Homo sapiens: one gene and its partners. The protein of the gene in region 2 purifies or fractionates together with the protein of the main gene of each other region. This does not show direct contact. Each region holds a gene or a part of one and is shown on either strand. Other genes may lie near its edges.

Region 1 (6,111 bases), on a different chromosome or scaffold from region 2:
GGATTAAGGTGATAAATAACTTGAGCACTTTCCCTCAACCAGCCCTTAACTAGAACACAGAAAATAAAACCAAGACTGGAAGGTCCCCTCTACCCCTCCCAGGCCCAGAGCTAGCTGACTGTGTATGAGCCTGGGAGAATGTGTCTCCTCCACAGTGGCTCCCAGAGGTTCCACACACTCTCTGAAGCTCCTTCTCCCACACTGCACCTACTCCTTGAGGCTGAACTGGTCACAGACAAACTGGGATCCAGCACAGTCCAGCAGTTCTCAAAATGAGGTCCTCAGGCCACAGTGCGTGAGAACTTGCTTGGCTGTTTGTTAAATGCTAATTCTTGGGCCCCATCAGAGCTACTGCATCGAAACCTGGGGGTAAAACCCAATATTCTGCATTTCTTATCAAACTCTTTGGGTGATAACTAAGTGTCTGAAGAGGTGACTATTTCCTGACAGAAGGACCCAAAGAGGGAAGCAGGACATAGGTAGGCAGACAGACACAGGGCCCTGTGCCTCAAGACACCTGTTTATTGGGGACACGACTCTGCAATAGGGATGACAGGAATCGTACCAAAAATAGCGACGTCTACAGGGCCCCTGATGGGGCTAGAAGGGTACAGTGCCCCCCACCCTCACCCCTTGTACAAAAATAAACTCTCACGCCTATGGACCAGCAAAGACTGGCAGAGTGGCTCCTCAACAGGGACACAAACCTTCTCTGCCAGCCCAGGGACCCCGTTCTTTGACCCTCACCTCTGCCACTTCTAAGGCACTGTGACTCCCTTGGGCTGGGTGGGTACCGCCAGCCCACCCTCCTACGCCCGCCGCGCCTTCCACCTCTGGTCCGCCTGGGGCTGGGATATGGGTCCCACGCTGCCCCCTGCTGGCTTCTCTACCCAACTACCTCTAGCGCTCCCCCGCTCCGGCGGGGTAAGCTCACTAAGCTAATCGCCCCTGAGGGCCCACTACCGTTCTTGCCCCCCCAGCCCTGCCTCTCCGGGTCTGGACAGCCCGGAGCCCTCCTCCCCTTCCTGCGAAGGACTGGGAGGGGTCTCTCCTGATGGTACTCGGGCATAGGGCGGGGACGCGTCAGCCTGGGGTGGCCGGCGGCCCCTAGCCCGGCGGCTGTGGTGCACTTGAAGGTGCAAGGCCATGAGCTCTGGGGCTCCAGTGGCGAACGGGCAGAAGAGGCAGCGGTGGAGGGCACCCCCAGGCCCGGCCTCGCCTCCCGGCCCTGCCCGCAAGGACAGGTCCAGGGGTTCGGCCTCACCGCCTCGCCCGTTGCGCAGGGTCCTCCCAGGGCTGGCGGGCTTCCGACGGGACCCCGGCCCAGCACCGCTAGAAGGAGGCCGGGGACTTGAGGCGCCCTCCACCCAGGTCGCAGGCTGCGGAGACGGCTTGGCTCCAGATTGCGGGGCCGAACCCCGCTGGGAAGGAGGCGGTGGCTCCGGGGGTGGCCCGGGGCCGGCCCCGCTCCTCTGCTCCCGGTGGTGGCGCTGTAGGTGATACTTGAGCGAGCCGGACTGGGTGCCCGCGTAGTCGCAGTGCGGACACTTGTAGGGCCGCTCGCCTGGGGAGAGTGGGTGCGATAGGGTCACGGGGTCACGATGACTGCACGCACCCACCCGAATTTCGCCCAATTTACAGACCTCATTCTCAGAACCAAGAAAGGGCACTGCGTCTCCCACCCACTTTGATTTAATAAAGGAGCGTTTCCCAAGTGATCTCATCCAGCCAAACTGAAGGCTTCGGAACAAACTTCACCTCCTAGTGTTTCGGTAGCCCTCACCTTTCTGCCCGCCCCCAGTCCCCTCTCCACGCCGGAGGCTGCCTCCCTCACCTGTGTGCACTCGCAGATGCACTTTGAGGTGATGTGCTGAGCGGAAAGATTTTCCGCAGAAAGGACAATCCTTGCCGGTGGCGCCCCGGCCCCCTTCAGGCCGGGTCCCTCCAACCAACAGCCCATTCTCTTCTGCAACACATACGTTAAGAGGAAGTCAGGGGGGCCCACACCCTGTCCAGGTGCCGCGCACCCACCCCACACCCATCCCATAGGGCTGCTTCCCCTCGGGGTCCAGGAGGAAACAAAGTCTGAGGGGTTAGATTTGTTGTGACTAAAGAGTTAAGTGTTCTCAAATGATGGCAAAGCCTCCAGGAAAACAAAACAAAACAAAACAAAAAAACTCAGGAGAAATTAAACGTAAGTTCTTTTAACAAGGAAGCTACGAGGGAGTGGCGGCGTAAGAGTCAGAGGAGGACGCGGCGTACCCGGAGAGCGGAGGGTACCTACATACCCTGCGTGGCGGTCGATCTTGCCTGGGCCCCAGCAGCAGAGGCAGAGTGCCCCGGTCCCTCACCCGGGCGCGGGTGCAGGGAAGCCAGAGAGCCCAGCGACCTGCCCCGGGCCCAGGTTTCCTCCTCGGCCTCCACCACCTCCTCTTCTTCCTCAGGCTCCTCCGCACGGTGCCGGCGAGCCCGGGCCGGGAGAGCAGAGGACAGCGGGCGGAAGCCTCCGAAGCTGCGGCCGGGACCGGGCTCAGCACCCTCGCCGTTGGGCCGGCCCTCGCCAGCTCGCAGGCTCAGGTAGCCCAAGAGGCTCGGGGGCTCACGGCGCTCGGCCGGGGTGGGAGCCGGGGCCAAGAGGAGCGCTGGGCCCAACGGCTCATAGGCCAGCAGGCCGAGGTCAGGAGGCTGGGGGGCGCGGGCAGGCCCGGAGGCAGGCCCCGGGGCACGCAGTGGGCCCAGCTTGCTGGCGTGCACCTTCATGTGGTTCTTAAGGAACCAGGGCTCCTTGAAGCAGCGGCCGCACACCGGACACGCATGATCGAAGGAGGCCTTGTGCTTACGCATGTGGCCCTTGAGAAACCAAGACTGTGTAAAGCTCTGGCCGCACACTTGGCAGCGGAACTCCGGAGGCGCTGGGGGCTCCTCGGGAGCGGCAGGAGCTGGGGTCGGGGTTGCCTCACGTTCGGGCTCCGGCTCCGGCTCCGGCTGGGGGACTGATCTGGGTTCGGGCTGGGGTGGAGGCTGAGGCTGAGGCTGAGGCGGAGGCGCAGCGGAGGTGGCCGCCAGGGGACGCTCGGGAGCCCCGTGGGCCGTCAGGCTGTGGTGCAGCAGCTCCTCCTCCTGGCTGGAGCCGAAACTGCACAGGCCGCACTTCCAGGGCCTATGCAGGATGTGCAGGTGGCGTTCGCGCTCCGCCGAGGTGCGAAACTTGCCTTTGCAGTAGGGGCAACGGAAGGCGGACGATGAAGGAGCCTGGGGCCGCGCCAGACCCTCAGTGGCAGGGGTGGCCTGCATGCCCCCTGAGCTTCGGGCTCTCCCCAGTCGGGCCTCGCGTAGTAGCGCGCGCTCTTCCAACTCCAGCAACAGGCGTGCAGCAGGACTACGTGGGCGCTCGGGCTGGTGTGTGCGCAGGTGCGAGCGCAGCAGAGCCCGCTGCGCCGCGCGGTGGCCGCAGTGAGGGCACTGGAAGGCCTGGGCTCCTGGGTGCGCCCGCAGGTGCAAAGCAAGGATAGAGTTGAAGCGGAAGCGCTTCCCGCATACAGGGCAGGGGAAGCGCCGTTCGCCTGCACGACTCTCAGACCAGCTCACCGCTCCCATCCCGAGCGACCCTGCGCTCACGGCTGGCCCGTTGGAGTATCGCTGCAGATCCAGCTCGCCGTCGAAAGCCGGCGGCGACGGCGCTAAGTGGCCGCTCGGGGCGCGGGGACGTGAGCCCTGTGGAGAAAGATCTGCGTAGAGCAAAGGGTGAAGGTAGAGCTGTAAAGGAAGCAAGGGCGTCGCCTCGAGGGCCAGAAGGACAACACGAGGGAAGGTGGGCTGGGGCCTGAACTAGGAACACAGGGTGCTACTCACCTCGGGAAGATGGGGTGGGGGGAGGTGTATGGGAATCGAGATGTCAGGGCCAAGGAGTTAACTTCTAATAATGGGAGGTCAAAGAGAGAGAGAGGTAGGCAGGAGAGGGAGTATACAGTTGTAGGTACTTGTAGGTTGAAGCCAGAGCTTCACTCACCTCCATGGACCCCCTTCACATTCTTTGGTTCTGGGAAGTGCAGGGAAGAGGAGGAAAAGCTGCTAATGAAGGCAACAGGTGCTGTGGAGCTAAAGCAAGAGACAGATTTGGAGGAAAAGATGAGCCCTAGTTTTCAGCAGTAAAGTCACTCCCTACCCCCAGACTCTCAGCATTCTGTATTCCCAAAACCAATCCATTCTCCCTACTTGCTTCTTGAGGCACGAAGGGGCTGCTATACTCAAAAACTGTACCTCTTGACTTGCCAAGCCTACAAGCCTCCCAGATAATCCAGATTTCTTCCCCAAATTCTATATTTTAAATGCATGGTCCAGAACAACCACAGCTACCACCCCACCCCCTGGCGGTGGGGAAGACCATCACAATATGCCCCTCTCCCATGTAGGTTGGGCTATGCAGTGTGGTGAGCAAATGAGGTGGGCTTGCCATGCTCCCCATTTATCCAAGTGGGACCAGTTGCTCTGAGATCCCTAACTGAGCAGCCAGCCAAACATCCTTCCAGGTTCCACAGTGCTTCCTTCTGCCCTTACCCTGTCTTTCTGTCTTTCCCCCCTCATTCTCCCTCCCTCCGCCTGGATTCCTGATCCATTCATTTCCATTCATTACAGAGACTCATTCATGCATGGGAGAGAAACACCTCCCAGCAGCAGAGTCTGAAGACAGACAGAGGGGGAGGGGCATGAAGGGGGAGGGAGCCAGAGGGAGAGGGAATGAAGAGAGAGTTGGGGGAGGAGTGGAAGTTAAGGGGCACAGCTAGCCTGGGGAAGGGGCTAAAAACTGCAAATACCGTATAGGATTCATCCCCTTGTTTCAAACCTTGGAGCCTGCAGTATGATGGGGCATCTGAGCCCCTTTGTCCAGGGCTGTTCCGAGGCAGGCTTTCCTCCTCTCTGCAGGGGAGAGGCTCCCTCACACAAGAGGAGGATTACACTGGCTCTGAGCTCAAGAGGCTGGAGTGAGGGACGGGGGGCGGGGCTGGGCCATCTGCACAGATAGGGACTCAGCACATGCTCTGAGCAGGAAAGGGTTAAAATTCTCCAGGCTAAAATTCCCTAGGCCTGGGACTTGCAGAGCTCCAGTGCTGGGGAAGGAGAAGATCATTGAGAGGAAGAGGATAGGGGTTGGGGGGGGGGGCGGGTGCTGATCCTAAGCTGCAGAGGAGTTTAGCATGAGGACTTAGAAGAAACCCCAGAATCAAGATTCATGGAAACAGACCTGGGAGGATGACCAGAAGTCATCTAGTCTACCTTTCTGCCTCATATAGAATAGTATCTGGTCAAGGCTAAATGAATGTGGGTCTAACCTTTTTTTTTTTTTTTTTTTGTCTAAGAAAGGATATTTGAGATATAAAGAACTTCCTTACAATAGGCATCACAAAACTGAAATGGGTTACTGAGAAAGAAAAAGATGCAAGCATTACTTTGCCTAAGGATCTTTAATAGAAAAGAACTGTGCCAGGAGTCAACCTGCCTGTCAGCAGAGAGAAAAGGCTCTGGAGGTCCAAGGCTTCTTTAATTTTTGACATTTAGTGGATGTGGTAAAACTCCATGAAGGGGCAGGTACCTGTTACATGTGGAATCTGGGCTATAGGATTATTATTAGCAGATGATTAATTAACAAAGTGTCCTTGTCCAAGGGTCACTAGACGACCTCCACTACCACTTAATATGTGTATTTCTGTAGCTTCAAATTAGGGCACCCACTCTCATCCTCTGGATCCTTTCCTGGGACTAAGAGCCTAGCCAGGCTTACTGAATAGTGTCACAAAAGGTGAATTAGAATAGGACTGAAGGGTACAAGGCTATTGTAGGCCTAGTCTGAACATTGATAACCCTACAACCTTTACTAAATCACTTAACCTCCCAGTTTACTCATCAGTAAAATAAGGGGATTGGACTAATTTATAGTGTTAGTCCCTTCCTGCTCGAAAAAAGTTTGTGATTCTAAGTCACAGGACTCTTTTGGACCCCAGAGAGATGTTAAAACAAATGGTCATCCCTTCAGTACCATGGAGAGTGCAGTGGGCTACCACAGAAGCCACTTGGGCCACCTCAGTACCATAGATAGAGCTATGAGGTGCTAGA
Region 2 (3,847 bases):
CTTCACTTTCCCCTATAATGACCTTGGCACAGCAGCTGAGACAGAGTCCACACAAACAGCCAGCCAAACAGCAAACCCCATGTTGGGGCACAGCAGCCTTCCTCAGTGCACCACCTGAATACCCCAGCACCCATCCCCACAACCCAGCACTGGCCACAGCAGGGCACAAGTCACACTGCAGGGTAGTTCACGGGAAAAAGGCTGCCTATTACACCTCATACCTCCAGGCCTGGGGGCACAGGGTCAAAGGCCTCCTACTGGGGTGACCTCGCCTCGTGAAACTTCCATGTCCCCAGGATGTGGCTTATGAGACAGCAGAAGAAGATGCAGACCCTGGGGAAAGGCCTCTGAGAGTCTCAGTGCAGCTGGGGCACAGCAGACCAACTGGCCTGGCCTATTACCTCCCCGGGGCCCTCGGAGCTCAAGGTTCTGAAACAAGGACCACCTGAGGCTGGGCCTAGGGGTGCGTGCACAGTCTTACACCTGAGCCATCATCCTAGTAAAGAACAGCATAAAACCAGGCAAAATTTCCAGGAATTTATTGGAAACACAATACAAATTGGTTAGTAGATGGCATCTCCTTACAGACAGACAATCCACACTGTGGTATCATGCTCAGAACGAATTATCCTGCGGAAACACTCATGAGCACAGGTGCGTGCTCTGGGTTAGCTTCCCTGGCAGGGAAAATCAGAGACATAGTGCAGAGGAACAGGAGGGGTGGACAGAAAACTGGGACATGGCCTTCCTGGGGGGAATGGTGAGGAGGGGCTGCTAACTGAGTAAATTCCCCCAAAGGAAAACAGGGACAACAGTAAAGAATAAAGGCTTCCCCCTCCCTCCCCAAAGCCGTTTCCTCTCTAGGCAGAGTAAAACAGAATCTCCAAACACCCACGGGGCAGCTCCTCCACCTCCCCTCGCCAGGGACTTAGGACAGCAGTGGGGCATAAACACCAGGCTCAGACATGACACCGAGTGCACTGAGGCCACGCACAGCCCCACCTGCTTGCCCTCAGCCCCCTGCTCTGCTCTGAGTGGCAGGGGACTGACCCGGTGGGTCGCCTGTCCCAGGCTCCCAGGGCAGCTGCTTCCAACTGGGTTTCACTACTGTGAGGCACCTGCAGGACTCTGGAGGCCAAGAGGAGGGGAGAGGCTGGGGCCCCCTCTCTCTGCCTGGGGAAATGTTTCTGACAAGAATCATGGCTTCTCGAGGCTCCAGCCCCCACCAGACAGGTCCACAGTGTGGCAGGTCCCCCAGTGGCCTTGGCCCCAGGCTCTGGTGACGCGTCCTCCCCTGGTGCCCAGCCAGTCTCAGGATGGGGGCGGCTTGCTGTTGTTGTTCCCCACCTCTGGGTTGCCCCTCACTCCCCTGTTTTGCCTCTCAGCTTTTCTTGTTTTGTGTTAAACAAATCTCTGGATGAAAACCCCCACTTGAAATCCATTTTCCTGGGTGGGCCCTGAGAGATGGAAACTGGGCTGTGCACAAGGGGAATTGTGAAGGGCAGGCTGAAACCTTCCGGCGACACCCTCCAGTCGGCCCTCCTCTCTTGCGCACCTTTAAGAAGTGAAGGGTGGGCAGGCGATGACTGAGCCAGAGGGGGAGATAGCCTGCAGAGCCTGTGTCCTCACCCCAGGGGCATGTCTGCTGGGGGCTGCGCAGACAGTCTCTGCACGTCCACCCATGTGCTCACTGAACCACAGTGACATGCCACTGACACACAGCAGGGACACCATGGCCCCAGAAAGGGAGCGGGTGGCTGGGAAACCCTCTCAGCACCAAATGCTTCCAACGGCAAAGGCACAGACTAGAGGCGCCTCGGCACCCTTCCTCCATTGCCTGGGGGATTCTGTCAGAACGAGGGGGCAGTTTCCAGAGACAAAGGGAGAGCGTGAAGTCTCAGTCAACATCACCCTCCTAGGATGACTGGACTACAGAACCACGAGCTTTACTTACAAGAGGAAGGAAAAGCCTGCTTGGCACACGTGGCTCGAACAAGCTGCGCTTTTCCCAAAGCCAAATGTCAACTGGGTAGATAGGAGGGGCCTCCCTTCTCCTGCTTCAGACCTGGCCTGACTCCTGTCTCCAAATCTCTTGGGCCTGGGTGAGAGGGCCTCTCCCAAAAGGCAGAGAAAATGAAGCTGGCAGCTGAGTCACGGGCAGCTAATTGTTTCCAGAATCTGCAGTCACCACTTAGTAGGGGTTCAGAGAGAAAGTGAAAGGGTGAGGGAATCATTTCCCCTTCTGGGTCCAAGTACGACAATAAATCCAGAGCAGGGTACAGACAGACAGCTTTCCTGTGTCTTTTTCTTTAGGGAAGAAACATCCACGTGATGCGGCACCTCCTCCCAGGTCTTTGCTGAAGGGACCCCTCAGTGGGAACCCTGAGGAGAACCCCTGCCTGCCACCTCCACCCCTCTCACCAAATGCTTCTGACACAGGCCCCACCCTCAGCGCCCCAAGCCAAGACCCAGCACAGCTCCAAGAGTGGGTGGTGGTGGAGACATCCCATGCTCGCCCTTGCAGAAGCCTAAGATGAGAACCAACTCCTCCTCAGAAAAGAAGCTGAGATGTCTGCAAAACCGCCCTCCACCTCACACAGCACGCTCTCTCTGCCAAGCGGAGCTCAGCCTCCGAGGACACAGACATCTACAGCATCATTATCCTTACCAAGTTACCTCGTGCTTCCCAGGGTGTCAATTCAATTGTAGCCACTCTGTCTTGCAACAGCTTGGCTATTTGGGCCTCTCGTATCTGCCATCCAGCTGCCTCCTAGTAACCCCAGAGATGGCTGGGAGATCAGACTCCAGTTGTCTTTCTTGGGACTGTGACCCTGTGCCTGCAAACAGAGGGCAGGGGAGTTGCCAGCCTCACATCTGCTCAGGGAGCTCATCGGGCGCTGAGCTATTCCTATCCTTGCAGCTGCCAGCACAAGTAGCACAGCTACTCAGCACAGCTGAGTGGCCAACTGTGATGCCACCAAGGGCTCGTGCCGAGGGCAGGTGGGAAACACGAAGAGCCCAAGCCAAAGGAGCAGGCAGGTCCCCCGGGGCCTAGGTCACATGTGCTCACAAGATGTTGGGCTGGAGGGGTGGGGGTCATGGGGTTGGCCACACAGACTCATACCCACAAACACAGTTCTCTCACTCCACACCTCTAGGCCAAACAGAGTCTGTCTGCTTAAAATGAAACTAGGTCATTTGTGACCTGCTGTAGGACCCACCTGGCAGCAGTTCTTCATCAGCTGGTTTGGCTGCAAGGGAACAGGGCAGTAAGCAAACGGCTTGTCACAGTGATACACACGCTTGGCACTTTTAACAACTGCTCTTGCTGGAGCTGTCTGTGACCAAGCAGAGCCGGGCAGAACACCAGTTTCTCTCCAACCACAAAACACAGATGATGAGTTTACAGGCTTATCTTTTGTCAGAACCTCGGTAATTCTGTTCCTTGGAGGAGTAGGAGGGAGGGTCACATATAGGAATGCAGAGGGTAAACAGCAAATTCCCCCATTTCAAAAAAACAAGGATGAAGCCTATCGAGAAAAAGCTGAGTGACGGTAACAGCAAGGACAGGGAAATACCTTGAACCTCATAAACACTGGCGCATTTCTTAAGAAAAATCCATTCAGAAAGATGCCATGGCCCTCCTGTACATATTTAGTAACTATACAGCATAAGACCGAGCTGAGCGGACACATGCAGGGTGGCAGCGGCTCTGAGCTTGCAGCAGCCCCACTGCCAAGTGGCCGCTGTTGCTGGGTGGGGCGCAGGGCGCTGCAGAAGGGAGGAGGTGGAGGGGTTCCCTCAGCCCCTCAATTCTCAGCAGGTCTCGCTCCGTAACAGCGAGGTC
Region 3 (7,931 bases), on a different chromosome or scaffold from region 2:
CGATATTTCTCCCAAGTCGACCAACTGGGTGATGCCAGTCCCTACCAAATTTGAATTGATGACTCAACTAAAGAATTAAAATTAGCAAGACAAGAAAATTCCAAATGAGGTGAGAAAGCTGTAGAAATAGTTCCAGATCCCCTAGTACTGAGCCATTCAATATCATTTCTGATGACAGGGACAGAGCTAGGAACATTCAATGTGGGTGTGAGTCCTTTTCATATACGGGGAGCTGGGTAAGTATTTTTTAAGGAAAATAATACATGAATCAGGAACAGTGAATTTTATTTAACCCCTTGCAGGCTGCAGATACAAAGGCAGCCGGCAATGATGCCTCAGTTTTCCTACAGCTTACCTATGCCTTATACAGTTAAGCAATGGTCAGAAATGTACTACTGTATCAAGGCCAGGTATTACTTGCAGAAAAAAATAAGGTGCCAATGATGTCATGTTTTAACAAAAGCAATGTTGTTAAATTCAGTACACCAAAAGAATCAACCAAACAACTGTTGAAAGGCAAGTTTTGTGGTCCTGACTCTGCTATCAGGTGACAACGTGAAAAACTCCTCTAAATCCAGCAAAGCTTTAATTGAGTGCTTATGGCTCCCAGAAATTTGCTGTAATTTTCAGAAATGACATAAAATAATTCTAGAAGATACAGCAGGAAGCCCAAAAGGCCTCTTTTGTCTTTTTATGCCTCTGGATTTGATAGCTGCTAAAGATTCTAGAACTGTAAGGAAAGAGATAAGGACCACCTTGGGAGCCTTATTAATATGTACATAAATATGATTTGCTTGGTGCCTCCACTGTGGTTTCCTCACAAGTTAGAATAAGTCCATCCACTGATCAGATCGGAACATCGTATTCATGTTCATCTTCTCAGTCAATAACACTTATAGATCCGGAGGAATAGAAATGAACAGACAGGGGTTGCTTCTGAGTCTGCCCTATACCTGTGAATATGAAACGATTTGCCCTCTCTTTGCATGGTTTTCTTCTTCTTCTTCTTCTTCTTCTTTGTTTTAAAGCACCAAAAATGAAGCCCAAAGTAATTTGGTAAGATGTGCTGTTGAATTGCTACAAAGTTGACTGCGTTTCAGAGGGTGGATCTGTGTTAAAAAGAAAACAACAAAAACAAATGAAATGTCAGTTTTCTTTCTGCAGAAACATTAGGACTTCCCATTTCTACTGACACGTCTTATCTTGATTCTTTCCAAATTTTTGTAAAGACATAAGAGATAAAATATAACAGCTCAGAAGGCAAAGATAACATTGTAGGATCTCGAATAGAGTCCAACCTCAGCTGAGTTAAGTATTGAGAATCGTTCAAAGAATTTTAAACAAAAAGCCTGGCTTGGGGGTCACGTGTCTGTTTAATCTGCCCCCACTGCATGGTGTGTTACACGCAGCACACACAGGGAATTAAAGCCCCACATAAGGTTAATAAAAATGCACTCTGATTTGATGAAATGATTTCTGATTTCTGAACTATTCCTCTATAAAGAAATTTAAAGTGACTGAGAATATGGAGGATTATCTGCTGGAATGCACTGTGAAGCTAGAAAAAGAATAGCAGGGAAATATTTGTGAGTTCAAAAAGCTTTTTGACATCTGCTCTGTGTGTGTGTGTGTGTGTGTGTGTGTGTGTGTGTAAAGATAGTGCAGAAAAGGTGGCATTTATTTCCATGTGATTCCAGCATGCACAAAGCCCCAGCTTTGGGCCCAGCACACAGTAGGTCTGCAGCAGGTGCTAGAGAAATGAACCTGGTTTTAAGATATTAGTTCAGGACCACATTTGGACCCACACTTTTTCCTTTTACATTTTCATATGTGAGCCACCTGCACCCTCTTTTTTGGGGGTGGGGAGGGGGCAGGAGTGACTTGTATTTTAAACAAAGGTTTGGTGAAGAAGAGGTGGGGTGGGGTGCGGTGGGGCGGTGCAGTGACCTTCTCAGGAGAGTCCTGAAGCCCCCTCTCGCCTGCCTGGGGTGCTGAGGCAGGGGTGGGTACATGGCTGTGGGCCGAGGTCGACCACCCCCCTCCCGCCCCGCCTGCTGTCTGGGCATCTAGAGAGTGGGGAAACATTAGTACGGGGCCAGCTGCGGAAGCCTGGCAGGGTCGAGGGAGAGGTCAAGGTCGGCCGAGAGGCGGCTATTGATCCGGCTTGGAACGTGAGACATGGAGCGCAGCAAGACTAAAGGGGGAGCTGTGAGACCAGACATTAACAGCTTTGCGCGCTGATGAGGCCCGTGCCAGACGGGCAGAGGGAAAAAGAGGAGACTGGAGTGGCAGCTGGGATCGCTCCCTGCCTGCGCCCGGCCGCCTCTCGGGAGAAGAGGAGGAGGAGGAGGAGGGGAAGGAGGGGGAGAAGGAGGAGGAGGGGGAGGAAGATGCGGAGGAAAAGGGGGAGGAGGAGGGCGAAGGGGCCGGCTCAAGGCTGGGCAGGGGCAGAGCAGCCTCTCCCCGGCTGCCGCGAGGTGGAGCGCGCCGGCGGGCGGCGGCGTGTCCGGCCCTGCGTCCGCCCGCCCGCGCGTCCCTCTTCCCGCCGTCGGGGCAGCGCGGGGCCAATGAGGAAGTGCTCCTCGGGTCCGTGGGGCACGCGCCGGCCCACGCCAGCTACTTCCTGCTGGGAGTGGGGAGGGGGTGCCCCCTCCCCAGGCACGGCCCCTTACCGCACGCGGGGTGGCGGCTGCAGCTGGGACTCCGAGAGCCCTTGCGCCGCTCGCGGAGGGGCTCCCTTTTCCTGAGGGGTCCTCCCCGTCCCGCCTTGCCACTGGCGGGGTCTGCCTTCCTTGTAATCAACCCCAGGAAGGTGAGGGTCGTGGGTCGGGATTTCGAGTCCCGGACCGCCGGCGGCGCTGGGCTGCAGGCACGCCGCGGTGTTTTGGGTCCAGACCTGTCCCTGACGCGCTGTGTGTCCTAGGGCAAAGTGCTCACCCTCTCTGGGCTTCACATCGCTAGTTCTCAGAAAGAGAGCGCGAGTTGATCTTTCAAATTTAGAGTCCGGGCGAGTAGGGATGGCCAGTTTATGAATGTCTTAAAGAAGTTTATTAAAGGTGCGTGTGGGCATATTTTTTTTAAGCCACTTTCCTGGAAAGATTTTCCCGGTGAGAGGGATGGCAGAAGAGGGAGGCCCTACTAGACTTTGGACCACGTGGAGGTGGGGTGTTGGGGGTGGGCAGCCGGGTGCAGCCTGCCCGGCCAGGGCGAGGAGGTGCAAGTCCGCGCCCCGCCCCCGGTCTCCATCCGCTCGGCCTCGCGTCCGCCCACCGTGGAGCCCACAGTTTACAGAACTGCAAGCCAGGGCACATTTTATTGTTATTATTTTTTAGGGTATGGGACTGGAAGGGATCTCTTTCTGTTCTCGCTCACGGACTCTGGGCGCTGTTAAATTGTTGGTGCCATCGCCCCACCCAAGACCTTCGGGACGAAAACAAAAACCCCCGTGTGCCCCCCGAGGAAAAGGCCCCGAGGGAGGCGGCGCTGAGGCGTCACGGCCTCGCCATGCGCCCGGGTGAAGCCGCCGGAGCCAGGCCTGGGGGCGGAGTGGGGTGGGTGCAGCTGGACTCGCCCGCGAAGCCTAGCCGGAGCCAGGCCCCGACCCGCCCTGGCCGCCTCCAGAGAAACCCTGAGAAGGGAGAGGAGGCCAGCCGCGTGGCGCGCCCAGCCCTGGAGGCCAGGTCATCAAATTGACAAAGTTGGCCACAGCCTGGGGAATGGGGGGTGTCCACGGGGGCCGTGGTCTGGCCTTGTCCCCGGGCCACGGAGAGGCCCCACAACTCCTCTTGTCCTCGCCGGTTGGAGATCAAACGGCTGACAAGGCAGCTGCGTCCTTCCCAGTCTGACAGGCATTTCCAAGTCCTACCCTGGGCCGAGGAGCGCGGGGGGCGGGGTGTGACTTCCAGGTTGCTGTGATTGTCAGGGGCGCCTCCTGGAGTCACCCACCCGAGTATCTGCGGAGATTTGGCCACACCTACTCCTGGGCTGGCAAGTCCAAGTCCCTCTCCCACGTGGAGCGCCCCGGTCCCTTTACCCTCTCGCTTGCCATAGACCCAGTTTAGGAGGTGGGGTCGTGTTTGACCCCAGGAGTTAATCGGGGTAAGGTGAGGGGAGGGGACAAAGATTTGAGTGAAAATCCTTTTCCAAGTGGGACTCAAACAAGGTCTCAAACACTTCTCACCCCCTCACGTGCTCTTGATTCTGTTGTCTTAGTGTCGTTTATTTTGTCATCCTCACCCTCCCAGAGTCTGTAATACCAGGATTTATATGGAGACACTTTTTGGAAGTTGAACTCCAACATCTACTCCCCTCCCCTCGCCGCCCGCGACCATAAAACAAAAGTAAAAACTACCAAGCGACTTTTCCAGGGAAACGAAGCGATTCTTACTGTCCCCCCAACTCCCATGTCGACCCCAACCCTTTTCCACAGTCCACGCCCCCACCCCCAAAGTCCAAGTCCGAAAGAGCTTTTGGGTGGGTGGAGACTTGCATTGATTCAATTTAGTTCACTCACACAGCACCCCGCCCCCCTTCTCAGGGGGTCCTGCTCCCAGGATGGAGGAGATATAAGGACGATTTTTCTTTTATTTTAAAATAAGCTGCCCAGTGGCCCCCCCCAACCCCCTCCCGCTGTTGCGCAGCCGGGGCTCGGGGGAGATGAGCGCACAAAAACGCGGTTTGCACGTGTGTCCGGCTTGGGCTGCGGGTGTGCGCAACTGGCGACTGTGTGTGTGTGTGTGTGAGTGTGCGCGCGCGCGCGAGTGTGTCTCTGTGTGTGCTTTCTTGTTCTCTTACAGGGTACAATGTTAAAAAGCCACCGCTAGTCGCCCCCAGTGCTCCGACTCTCTGGGTCTTTTTGTCTCTAGTGCAGATTAAACGTCACGTCCGCACTTGAACTTGAATTTTATCCCATTGTACAGAGGCAGCCCCAGCCATAGAGAGACCGAGAGCTCCCAGAGAACCCGGACTCCGCCATCTTCACGTTGCAATCTATAGCTCCCAGTCTGCGCCCGCACCGACCCAGGCGCACTGGGCGAGCCGCCCCTCCGCCCCGCTCCCCCCGGGCCCGCGGCGCCAGGGGAGCGCTGGGGAGCGCTCGCGGGGACTCGGCAGCCCCTCCGGCCGGCGCCAGCCTGCCAGGTGAACTGGGAAGGAGCCTCTCCTGGTGTCCCCCCAGAGCCTCGGAAGGGTCAGTCTCCGAGAAAAAACAAAAACAAAAACAAAAACAGGCAGCCCGCAGAAAACCCAGAAACAACCGAACCGGGGCAGTTTTACATTGCTTTGGGTTTTTTGAGGGGGCGGGGTGAGGGGGTACGAGACAAGTCCCCAAGTTTTCTTTGCTTTTTTTTTTCCTTTGCTTTTTCTTCTTTTATTTTTTTATTTGTTTGCATTTTTTTTCCCCTCCTGGTAGAAGTGCGCTTTCCACCTACCAGACCCTGAAAGAAAGTGTCAGGAGCCGGTGCAAAACCCAGTTTAAGTTCAAGAAGACATTTGCAAGTGCAAGAGGCCAAGCAGTTTGAAGAAGTGTAAGAGATTTTTTTTCCTTCGAAAGAATATATTTTTAAAGAAACCAGCCAGTCCGCGGAAAGCAACAGCAGTTTTTTTTTTTTTTGCCTCTTTTTCTTATTTTAGATCGAGAGGTTTTTCTTGCTTTTCTTCCCTTTTTTTTCTTTTTGCAAACAAAACAAAAAACAGCATAGAAGAAAGAGCAAAATAAAGAAGAAGAAGAGGAGGAAGAGAGGGAAAGAGAGGAAGGGAAAAAAAACACCAACCCGGGCAGAGGAGGAGGTGCGGCGGCGGCGGCGGCGGCGGCAGCGGCGGCAGCGGCGCGGCGGCGGCTCGGACCCCCTCCCCCGGCTCCCCCCATCAGTGCAGCTCTCCGGGCGATGCCAGAATAGATGCCGGGGCAATGTCCCGCCGCAAACAGGGCAACCCGCAGCACTTGTCCCAGAGGGAGCTCATCACCCGTAAGTGTCTGCGGAGTGCGCGCGAGGGGCCGGAGATGGGGCTCCGGGCGTCTGGGGCTGGGGACACCGAGCCCGGAACAGCCGAGCCTGGCCAGGCGCCGGGGCCGCCCGCTGGCTGGCAGAGTCTACGGCGTCGGCCTGGAGCATGGCGGGGGGCGGGGGCCATAGGAAAGTTTCTTTGCAGCCCGGGGAGTTGGGGCGCCGAGCAGCCGGACGCGCCTCGGGCTCGGGGGCCTGCGGAGCCGGCTCCGGGCCGGGGAGGGGGCATGCAGGCTGGAGGAGTGTGTGTGTGTGCGCGCCGAGCCCGGCTGGACGCTCGCCCCTCCGAGCGGCGTGTGTGGCGGCGGCGGCGCTGGTGGCGGGGTTTGGAGAGGAGGGGGAGGGGGCTGGGGGAGCGGAGGGGGAGGGGGAGCCGGGAAGTGGGGAAAAGTTGGCGAGCGCGTGGGTCCGCGCTGACGGCGCGGGCGGAGGAGAGCGGGGTGCGTTCCGGCTGGGGGAGCCGTAGGGCCAGGGGCGGCCGCCGGCTCCGGGTCCCCGGTCCCTGCGCCCGGCCCAGCAGGGTGCCGGCCGCGCCAGTCCTAGGATTCCGCAGCCGCCTTTCTCTCCCCTCCTCCTGCTATTTGCAAAATAATCCAGCTGCGCGGCTGTTTGCCGGGCTCAAGCCCCCCTCCCCACCCCCCACTTCCCCACCTCCGTCTGTCTCCTGGGATGATCTTGTCTTCTTTCCCCCACTTCAAAAAAGGTGGGGGGATTGGGGTTGGTGAAAAATCCCCGCCACGAGGAAAAAAAAAAAGGTTGTCAGTTAGGAGTGGGAAGAGAGTGATGCGCTTGTAAAATAGTAAAAGAAAAAAAAGAAAAAAAGGAGACCCATCAATCTCGTATCCATCTTTCTATCTCAGTATCTTTCATCTTTCCTATCTAAATAAACAAGGCAGGTCGCAGTGGAAATCCACCGGCTGAAATCGTGTCGATTTCAAGCATGTGGCTGGGCGGGCAAAGTCAGGCAGCGGGGCAAGACAAGCAGCAGCTTCCACCGTCCCTGTTGGGTTTATTTAGCAGAGGGGAAAAGCGAGCGCGAGCGGGCCAGGTACGGTGTTTGCAGGGGAACCCGCCCCGAGTCCCCGCACACTTGCACCGGGAAGGTGGCTTTGCGGCGCTCCCCGCCCGCCGCAGCCCGCGGGGCGGCTTCTTCGCTGCGCGCGAACATTTCCCCGCCGTTCTTTCTCTCGCGGTGCCTGGGTCGCCGTTCCTTTTTTTTTTTTTTTTTTTTTTTTTTTTTTTTTTTAACTGCAATAGAAATAAAACATCCTCTGGGTGCCATCGAGACCGCGGGCAGGTTATATGCTTGCAATCCGCCGCGCACCTCGCCGGGCTGGGGCCGGGCTGCCCGCGCGGAGCTCGAGAGGGCTGCGCGCCCAGTCACCGCAGAGGACTGGCTGCCGGGCGGCCGAGAGCCGAATATTTATGTTATATTTTAAAAAATTTAAATAAATAAATAAATATATAAAGTGGTTCTCCCCTCCCCTGAAAACCCAGCATAGGAGCCATCTGCTCGGAGCAATTGCTGTTGCCATCTCTCCTTTGTTACAGCAGATACATTAGTAAGAATTTGTGGATTTATTATGATTTTTTTTGGGGGGGGGGGAATAGAAATTAAAGTGGGATTCGCCTTGGGAGAGGGATGCCTCTTTGGAGGAAGGGAAGAGGACTTCTCTTTTATTTTTCGCCGTTGTAACACCAAAGAAGACTCGCCGGCTGCGTTTAAAACAAAATGTTTTGCAGCTAGATTTGAGCTTGGTTTGATCAAGGTCTTTTTTGCCAGTTGACATTTCGATCCTTTACCAAGCCACAGCAATCGCTTATTCTACACCCTTCCCCCTTTAGATGGGGTGGTTGTTAAAACGTCTATACTTGCAGAGGCTTAATTTCTCCAGGAGGCAATTTGCCCCACGTAGCCTCTGTATA
Region 4 (7,032 bases), on a different chromosome or scaffold from region 2:
CCCCCAAAAACTCCCCCCCCCCATAAAAAATAACAGAGCACACAGAAAGGAAAGTATAATTTATATGTACAACCAATAAACCTGATACAGAAGAGGGGATCAGGACAGACCAGGAGTGGGTGTGAAGAGAGACTGGGAAAGGGGCAGCAAGAAAGTGAAGGGGCAGCAAAGAGGAAGTGGGGGGTTCGCCATGCAAACTGCCACTCTCCCCGGCCCCTCCTGGGAGGGGGGATGTGCCCACATTTCCCTAGCCTGCCCTCCACTATTTTGCTCTGGTCCCAACGACAAGGTAGCTCCCAAGACCCTGACTAGGTCCCCTGCCTGACTTATACAAATTTAGTCTGTATCCAGGCCTTGAGGAGGGAGGGTAGTAGAAGTCTTCCAGGAACCTGAGCCCCAGAGCTGGGCTTCCACCACATCTGGCCCATTGTATTCTCTCCCACCCTTCTAGGTTACCTGGGTCCCTAGAACAGGTTGGGGAGCTCCTCTTTGGCTTGAGGGAGTATCACCCAACCATTACTCTTTTTGTAGGGGTGGTCCTTGGTCCCTAGGGAGGGGGGAACATTCCCAACACAAGATGCCGGTACACAGGAGGTAACTGAGCCAGTGAACGGCACCTTTATTCTGAGGCTGAACAGCAGTTGACTTCCTCCCTCATAACTGCTCCACCCTCCACGTGGGGAGAGGTAGGGGACGGTAACATGCAGCCACCCCTCCTCGTCCCTTCCTCCCTCCCAGGGCTCATTTTCATCCCTCTCTAAAGTCCCCCTCCTCTCTTCAAAGCTCTCTTCCCCACAAAAGTTCCTAAAGGCCAGGCAAGGCTGATTCTCCACTTCCACATGAGACAGAGCTGATTCTGCAGGGAAACGGCTGGGGAGGCTCCACCTCTTTCCTCCCCACAACCATTTACTGGGAAGTTGTGTATACTTGGCAGTGTGGGAGGAAGGTACTTGGAAGACCCTGCCAGCCATCTCCCACCCAGACTTCTTCTCACCAGCACAGTCTTCAAGGCTTGGTGGGAAAGGTGTGTGGGAGTGGAGAAAGACAAAGGGCCCTTCTTGAAGAGAGGAGCTGCAGAGAGGGGCAAAGGGGTTCCTAGCCCAGTGATGGCCCAAGGGGTGGGGAAGGTGGAGGGCTGGCAGCAGGCCCCAGCGCTTGAGCTGGGGGTCGGCCTCGGGGACGGGGCCTGGGTGAAGGGCAGGCCTGGGATCCAGTCAGTCGTCTATACAGATCACCTCCCCGGCTCGGGGCTCCTTCCGATCCAGCCCGTCTGACACCAATGCCCCCACCATTTCCTTCTCCTTCTTCACAAGCACTGGAGGGCCGTTGGTGGCGGCTGTTTGGGAAAGGGGTAAGGAAAGATCAATCTCCAGATCACTCTCAAACGTCACTTCATGACAATGGTGAATTCTCACTTCTAGGTCACCTCCTGCCACTTCCCGTTGTCCCACGTGAGGGAGGGAAGACCCGGGCAAACCCCTTTCCCTGAGATTCCACTTTGTGCTACATGATTGAACACATGTTCCCACTCTCTAACCCCTCGGGTTTCATATTCACTTTCCCTTGAAGGAACCCGGAGGGAGGTGGCTCGGGTAGAAGACACCAAGCCACAGATCTACTAAAACTCTGGTTTTTAATAAAGGGGACTGAAGAGGGGTTAAGAAAGGGATGGGTGGGGGGACAGCCTAGAACAACTCTATCCCATAAAACACCGGATACCACCAAGGAAATGAGATGGACTAGAGCAGTTAAAGGGCAGCTGAGCAGAAATAAAGTTTGGCAAAGGAGGAGTGTGAGTAGCAGGGGGTAGGAAAACACCAGCTGACCTGTGATGAAGGACCCTGCAGGCATCTGGCTGTAATTGGCGCCTGCGGCGGCCAGGGCCCCTACGGGTGCGGCGCTGAAGGCCGCCCCGTACCCCGGAGGTGTAGCGTAGGGACCCGGCGGGTAGGCCTGGAACAGAGAGGAAGCAGAAGTTGGAGTTAGTTCATAGTCTGTGAGAGGAAAGAAGCTGTAGGAGAGACATTATGAGCCACACTCCACAACTGCTAAGGGTAGGATACACAGGCAGGGAGACTCACTCAAGGGTGATGACTGTGTTCTAGCAAGTTGTTTTTCCATATTGTATAGGATTCTGATGGAAGTGTTTGTATGTGTGCAGGAGGAACACAAACAGGGAAAACTGGAGCTAGGGGGAAAGAGGGTTACCGGTGTGGGGTGAGGCTCCGTGCCCTTGCTGGCCAGCCGGCTGAGGATGCTGCGCTCGGACATCTGAAGGCGGGCTGCGATGGGGGGTATTCGGGACAGCGTGGCTGGCAGGCGGGTCACGTCCGCCTTCATGTCGCTCAGCAACTCCTCCAGCTGGTTCAGAACTGGGGCCCGGGCCACAGAGAAAGAAGGGCAAGAGAAAGACAGGGAAATACAGAGATGGAGCCAGGAAAAGAGAGGCATCAGATGGACAGATACAGGCAGAAAAAGAGCGAGAGAGGAGAACACAGATGTCAAAGAACCAGAGATCAAGAAAGTAAAAGAAGTAGATGGAAAACAGAAGCAACTCAGGGGAAAAGAAAAAGTGTCAGGAAAAGAGACAGAGAGACCAGATTACCACAGAAGACAGATGGAGAGAAAGAAGAAAGAAAAAGGGAGCATGGAGGAAAGGAAGATGGGGGGACATTGGAAGACATGGGGGCGGGGAGTTGTCAGAACATCTCATACTGGAAGAGCAAGGTTTGGGGTTGGGGATGATGGGGAGGAAATAGTCAGGAGGCATGGGAGGTGGTAAGTGTCAAAGCTTTAAGGAATCACGGTTTTAATATGTAAGGGGAGAGGGAGGTTAGAAGGTCAGTATTACAGATTCAAGGAATTAGAACAGGGATCAAAGGGGCCAGGAGTCAGTGACTACACCAGGCAGGATTAGATGGTTAGAGGGCTTTGGGATATAATCTCTATCAATGGCAAGGTGAGAGGGGGTAGGAGGAAAGGTCGAAGGTCAAAGGGAAGTTTCATGGGGTAAGGCCAGAGGGTTGGATGGGTGGTAGTTTCTGCCTTATGGGGTGAAACACATGTGAGGGAATGTGATTTGTTTGATCACAGCCAGGGATCTGTATGGTGCATTCACAGTCCAAGGCCCCTAACTGGATGATGTTAAGCAGTATGGCAGGCATGCAGTTCCACTGCCAGTGAAGAGGCCCCACTGTGTGGAGGGGACACAGAGGCTGGGGCAGGTCCCTCTATTGGGCACGGATGTGAATGCTATCAGACATGGATGAGGGTTGGCTTGCACAAGTCCTAGAGGCTAAAATCCAAGGGGGTGCCAGGTCGGTAGGAGTGGGGTTAGAGGTCAGAGGGGGATGGTTCAGCAGGTAGAGGGGTCAGGGGGTGGGAAGATTTTGAGGGGTGCGGGGTGAAGACTTACGCAGCGTTGTGGGCCCTCCCCCGCGCGGGGCCGCCGCGGCCCTTACCCTTGTGCAGGACGGCGTTGGCCGGCTTGTTCCCCGCCAGCGACTCCTTGGAGAGGTGCTGGTGGCTCTCGGCCAGGCACTCGGCCTCGGCGAAGCGGGCGTGGAGGGCCATGGCGGGGTGCGCCGGCTCCTGCGACAGGTTCAGGTAGGCCGCCCGCCGCAGCTGCTCCTCAATCACCAGCGCCTGCTCCAGGAGCTGAGGGCACAGAGTTGGGAGGTGAAGGTAGGGCTCTGCCAGCAGTGGGTGAGGGGCTGGGGGGGCGGACATAGCAAGAGACCCACCCTGCCCTCACTGCTGGCCCAGGGCACTCCCAGCTCCAAACCGACTGCGAACCTAGCAGCAACCCTGACCCAGATCACACTCCCAAGCACAAGGTTACACTTTGGTCTTGGCCCCAGGTATCACCTCAGCCCTGAAGGTGTTAACCTTCCCTAGGTTCCAACTAGATCTGGTCTCACTTCTGACCCAAGCCCGTCTATAACCCGCTCCTTTCCTCCCTCATTCCCACCTTGAACCTCCGGGCCAGGAACTTATTTTTCATCTCCAGAAAGTTCCCCTTATTGGCTTCAGTTTTAAATGGCTCGTTGATAATGGCAAATTGAGCATCATTCTGGATGTCCTGCCACCGTGCATAGCCATGGCTACCAATGAAGGAAAAGGAACCATCAAGGAATTTAACAGGAATGGGCTTGGCTTTGAACACTTCTTCCTTTTGGCTTGACTCCCCAAAGTGTGGCACTAGCCCTGTCCCTGGGTGTGAAATCATCTTTTTTTTTTTTGCCAGCTTGAGAGAACCTTTTCCTTCTTGCATGTGTATCAAAGGATACAGGACAATCCCAGCCAGAAGCCAATAGTCATGTCTTCTGTGCCAGATCTCATTGAGTTTCCCCGAGGAAATAGCTGCCCGTTCCTCATTCTGCCACAGTGTGTGAAGCTCTGCAAAGAAGGCAGCAGACAGAAGAGGTAACAGGGTTTTGCAGACTGCACTCAGTCCAACAGACAGGTAGAGATGGAGAAACTGAATAATGAAAGGGAACTAAGGGCTCCTGAAGAGGAATGGGTAAAGGTTAGGTTTGGAACAAACTCAGTTCTAACCAGGTTCGTTAGAATTAAGAATAAAGGTGGGATTAGGGCCAGCTTTGGAGTTAAGAGGGATACTTAAGAAAGATTTAGAGCAAGGATCGGAGTCAGCATGCAACATACTTCATTGGAAGTTACTTGGAATTAAAGGTAGCAGGAAGCCTCAGGCAAAACGAGAAACCCCATGAGGATGAGCAGATCCCCTTGAGGAGCAGAAAGCAGCGAGAGTCTCCCCAACCTGTGAAGCCACCATCGGCGATATTGAACATGAACCGGGGCTTCTCTGTCTTTTCCTCTCGTCGCCCATTGGACCGTGGCTCATCTCGAGGCCCTGGTCGAAGCTCCCGGTCACCTTTTACATCTTCTGCTAGGACAGACAGGTCAAAGCTCACACCTCAGGACACCCTCCTCCCAGGTCCCAAGACTACTATCTGTACTGTACTGTACTGGCCTTTCAAACAGCTACCCGCCCAGGACCCAAGCATTCGGTTCCCCAGACTCCACCTCCCCTGATGCCCTCTGGGACCCAGGTGTCCGGTCCCTTCCACCCATTACCTCTCTTGCCCAAATCCCCTGTTTCCCCCTCCGGCCTCTCCCTGTGTTCCTGTCCATCCAACGGCTTCTCCTCCCCCCTTTCTCCTGGCGTCGACTCTGTGGCTGTGGGAGGGGGTAGGGGATAGGAAGGGAGGATGTTACCCTCATCCCCTGACCCCAGAAGAGGGAAATCCCAAATTCTAATCCCCCATCACTCCTAAGGCCATGCACCCACCTGACTTCTCTCTGTCCCCACGGTACCCAGGTTCAGGCTCCATCTCTCCAGGCACCCCTGGCACCTCATCCTCTAGAGGAATCTTCCTTGGCTCCAGCCGCTCCCCAAGTGATGGGGCTGGGCTGGGGGCATCAGCCTGGAAGAGGACAATGGGGTCAGGATGAGCCAGAGGGCTCCCAGGTACCTGGCCTCCAAGCCCCCTCCCCTCCCGCTCCACAGGGGAATCCAGGGAGCCACACACCTCTGTCTCCATCTTCTCCCCAATTCTGCTGTTCTTCTCTGGCTTTTCCTCCTGGTTTTCAGCTTCCTCCTTCTCAAGAGGTGTCCTTATGCCTTCTCCTTTCTCACTTGGAGCTGGAGTAGCTGCAGGGGAAGGCACAGTGATAAAGACAGAGATTCTCCCGCCCTGACTCCTGGCTCCCTTTCTGTCTCTCCCACCATCCTGACTTCTGATTACCAGGTTTAGAGGTGCAGGGACTGTTGGTAGCAGAAGCCTCAGGAGTGGTGGGAGACGTTTTGGTAGGAGAGGAGGCTCTGGAGGAGCGCTTAGAATCGGCGCTGGGGTCAGGCATCAGTTCCGGCATTGACCAACGCCCATTGATGTGCTCAAACTCCTGCACCTGGGGTGGCAGGGTGGGAGGGTTAGGTGTCAGCTCCAGGCGCTTACAGACAGGAAGCTCCAGTCTCCTCCGTCTCACACCAGCGCAAGCTTACAACTCAGGGACAGAGGCAGAGGAAGGACAGAGACTAGGCAGCCAGCTTGATTCTTTGGGTGACAGGAAGACTGATACCTTCTTTTTGACGAGAGACATGACTCCAATGCGGGTCAACACCTGCTGGCGACTCAGTCCCTCCCGAGGGACCCCATCGGCAAAGGTTTCAGAGCCGTCTGCCCCAGGCTCACACAGATGGCGCATGAACAAAGACACATAGGCCCTAAGGAGCATGGGAGTGGGAGGAGGGTTAGGGGAGCCACAGAAGGGGTATAGGGCAGTGAGGGAGGCGCGAGGATGACTGAGGACCCCCAAACCCCCAAATCCCCAGGTGCTCCAGGGCTCCTCCCCTGGGCCTCTCACTCTCACCATTACCAGCCCTCCAAGTCCTAACTGTCCCCCTGCGCCCCACCCCTGGGTCTTTCCCTTTGGCCTTGGTACTTAATTCCTGGGCCCCATCAGTCAGCTCTTCATCCTTTCCACCAGCTCCTCCTGCCAGGTTATTGTGGTCAAGTAAATGTGAGGCTAGGACAGCCCAGGAGAGGCTCCTTGCTTCAACGCCCCTCCCCTGGGGAGGATGCCTGGCCCCTCTACTCTAGGCTCGGCTGAGGGGAGGTGGAGTGGGCTGAGACCACCCCCCAGGAAATCGAGCCAGGAAGTATTGTATGACAGGGAGGGTGATAATCAGTTGAGTAAGGTCACATCATATGGCGGCCCCAAGGAAGAAAGGAACACCCAAAGCTCTTCCCCTTGCGTCCAACTCAGCCCTGTATCACCCACACTCACTTAAACTCCTTCTCAGTCTTGCCCCTCAGGTCCCGCACCAGCCACTGTGTGGTGAAGGCATCCTGTGGTGGCATCCCCCAGCGCATCACAGCATTGAGGAAAGCCTTCCGCTGACGGGTGTTGAAGCCCAGCACCTGAGGGTGGGAGCAAGGAGGCAATGGCGACAAATGTCTAGGGTTCTTAGGTCTTGTCCTTTCTACCTTCAGTGATCCAGGCACCAAC

The links.
Region 1: the proteins of MTA3 (region 2) and ZNF219 purify together in Homo sapiens (affinity purification with mass spectrometry; 4 studies listed by BioGRID and IntAct, with this or other methods). This does not show direct contact.
Region 3: the proteins of MTA3 (region 2) and BCL11B purify together in Homo sapiens (affinity purification with mass spectrometry; 2 studies listed by BioGRID and IntAct, with this or other methods). This does not show direct contact.
Region 4: the proteins of MTA3 (region 2) and CHD3 purify together in Homo sapiens (affinity purification with mass spectrometry; 4 studies listed by BioGRID and IntAct, with this or other methods). This does not show direct contact.

What each region holds. Positions count from the first base shown.
Region 1 is NC_000014.9:21,089,577-21,095,687, forward strand, and holds the end of ZNF219 (zinc finger protein 219), read right to left. Parts: intron 4,099-6,111; 5' UTR 4,016-4,098; coding exon 4,010-4,015; intron 3,715-4,009; coding exon 2,289-3,714; intron 1,967-2,288; coding exon 1,835-1,966; intron 1,565-1,834; coding exon 960-1,564; 3' UTR 501-959; downstream 1-500. UniProt on the Homo sapiens protein: Transcriptional regulator. Recognizes and binds 2 copies of the core DNA sequence motif 5'-GGGGG-3'. Binds to the HMGN1 promoter and may repress HMGN1 expression. Regulates SNCA expression in primary cortical neurons.
Region 2 is NC_000002.12:42,753,623-42,757,469, reverse strand, and holds the end of MTA3 (metastasis-associated protein MTA3), read right to left. Parts: 3' UTR 524-3,847; downstream 1-523. UniProt on the Homo sapiens protein: Acts as a component of the histone deacetylase NuRD complex which participates in the remodeling of chromatin.
Region 3 is NC_000014.9:99,269,196-99,277,126, reverse strand, and holds the start of BCL11B (B-cell lymphoma/leukemia 11B), read left to right. Parts: upstream 1-4,929; 5' UTR 4,930-5,908; coding exon 5,909-5,966; intron 5,967-7,931. UniProt on the Homo sapiens protein: Key regulator of both differentiation and survival of T-lymphocytes during thymocyte development in mammals.
Region 4 is NC_000017.11:7,905,768-7,912,799, reverse strand, and holds the end of CHD3 (chromodomain-helicase-DNA-binding protein 3), read right to left. Parts: intron 6,945-7,032; coding exon 6,811-6,944; intron 6,678-6,810; exon of another isoform or gene 6,540-6,677; intron 6,248-6,539; coding exon 6,103-6,247; intron 5,932-6,102; coding exon 5,769-5,931; intron 5,675-5,768; coding exon 5,553-5,674; intron 5,448-5,552; coding exon 5,312-5,447; intron 5,200-5,311; coding exon 5,098-5,199; intron 4,910-5,097; coding exon of another isoform or gene 4,907-4,909; coding exon 4,781-4,906; intron 4,399-4,780; coding exon 4,290-4,398; intron 4,104-4,289; coding exon 3,971-4,103; intron 3,658-3,970; coding exon 3,462-3,657; coding exon of another isoform or gene 3,416-3,461; intron 2,373-3,415; coding exon 2,209-2,372; intron 1,954-2,208; coding exon 1,827-1,953; intron 1,337-1,826; coding exon 1,215-1,336; coding exon of another isoform or gene 1,096-1,214; 3' UTR 45-1,095; downstream 1-44.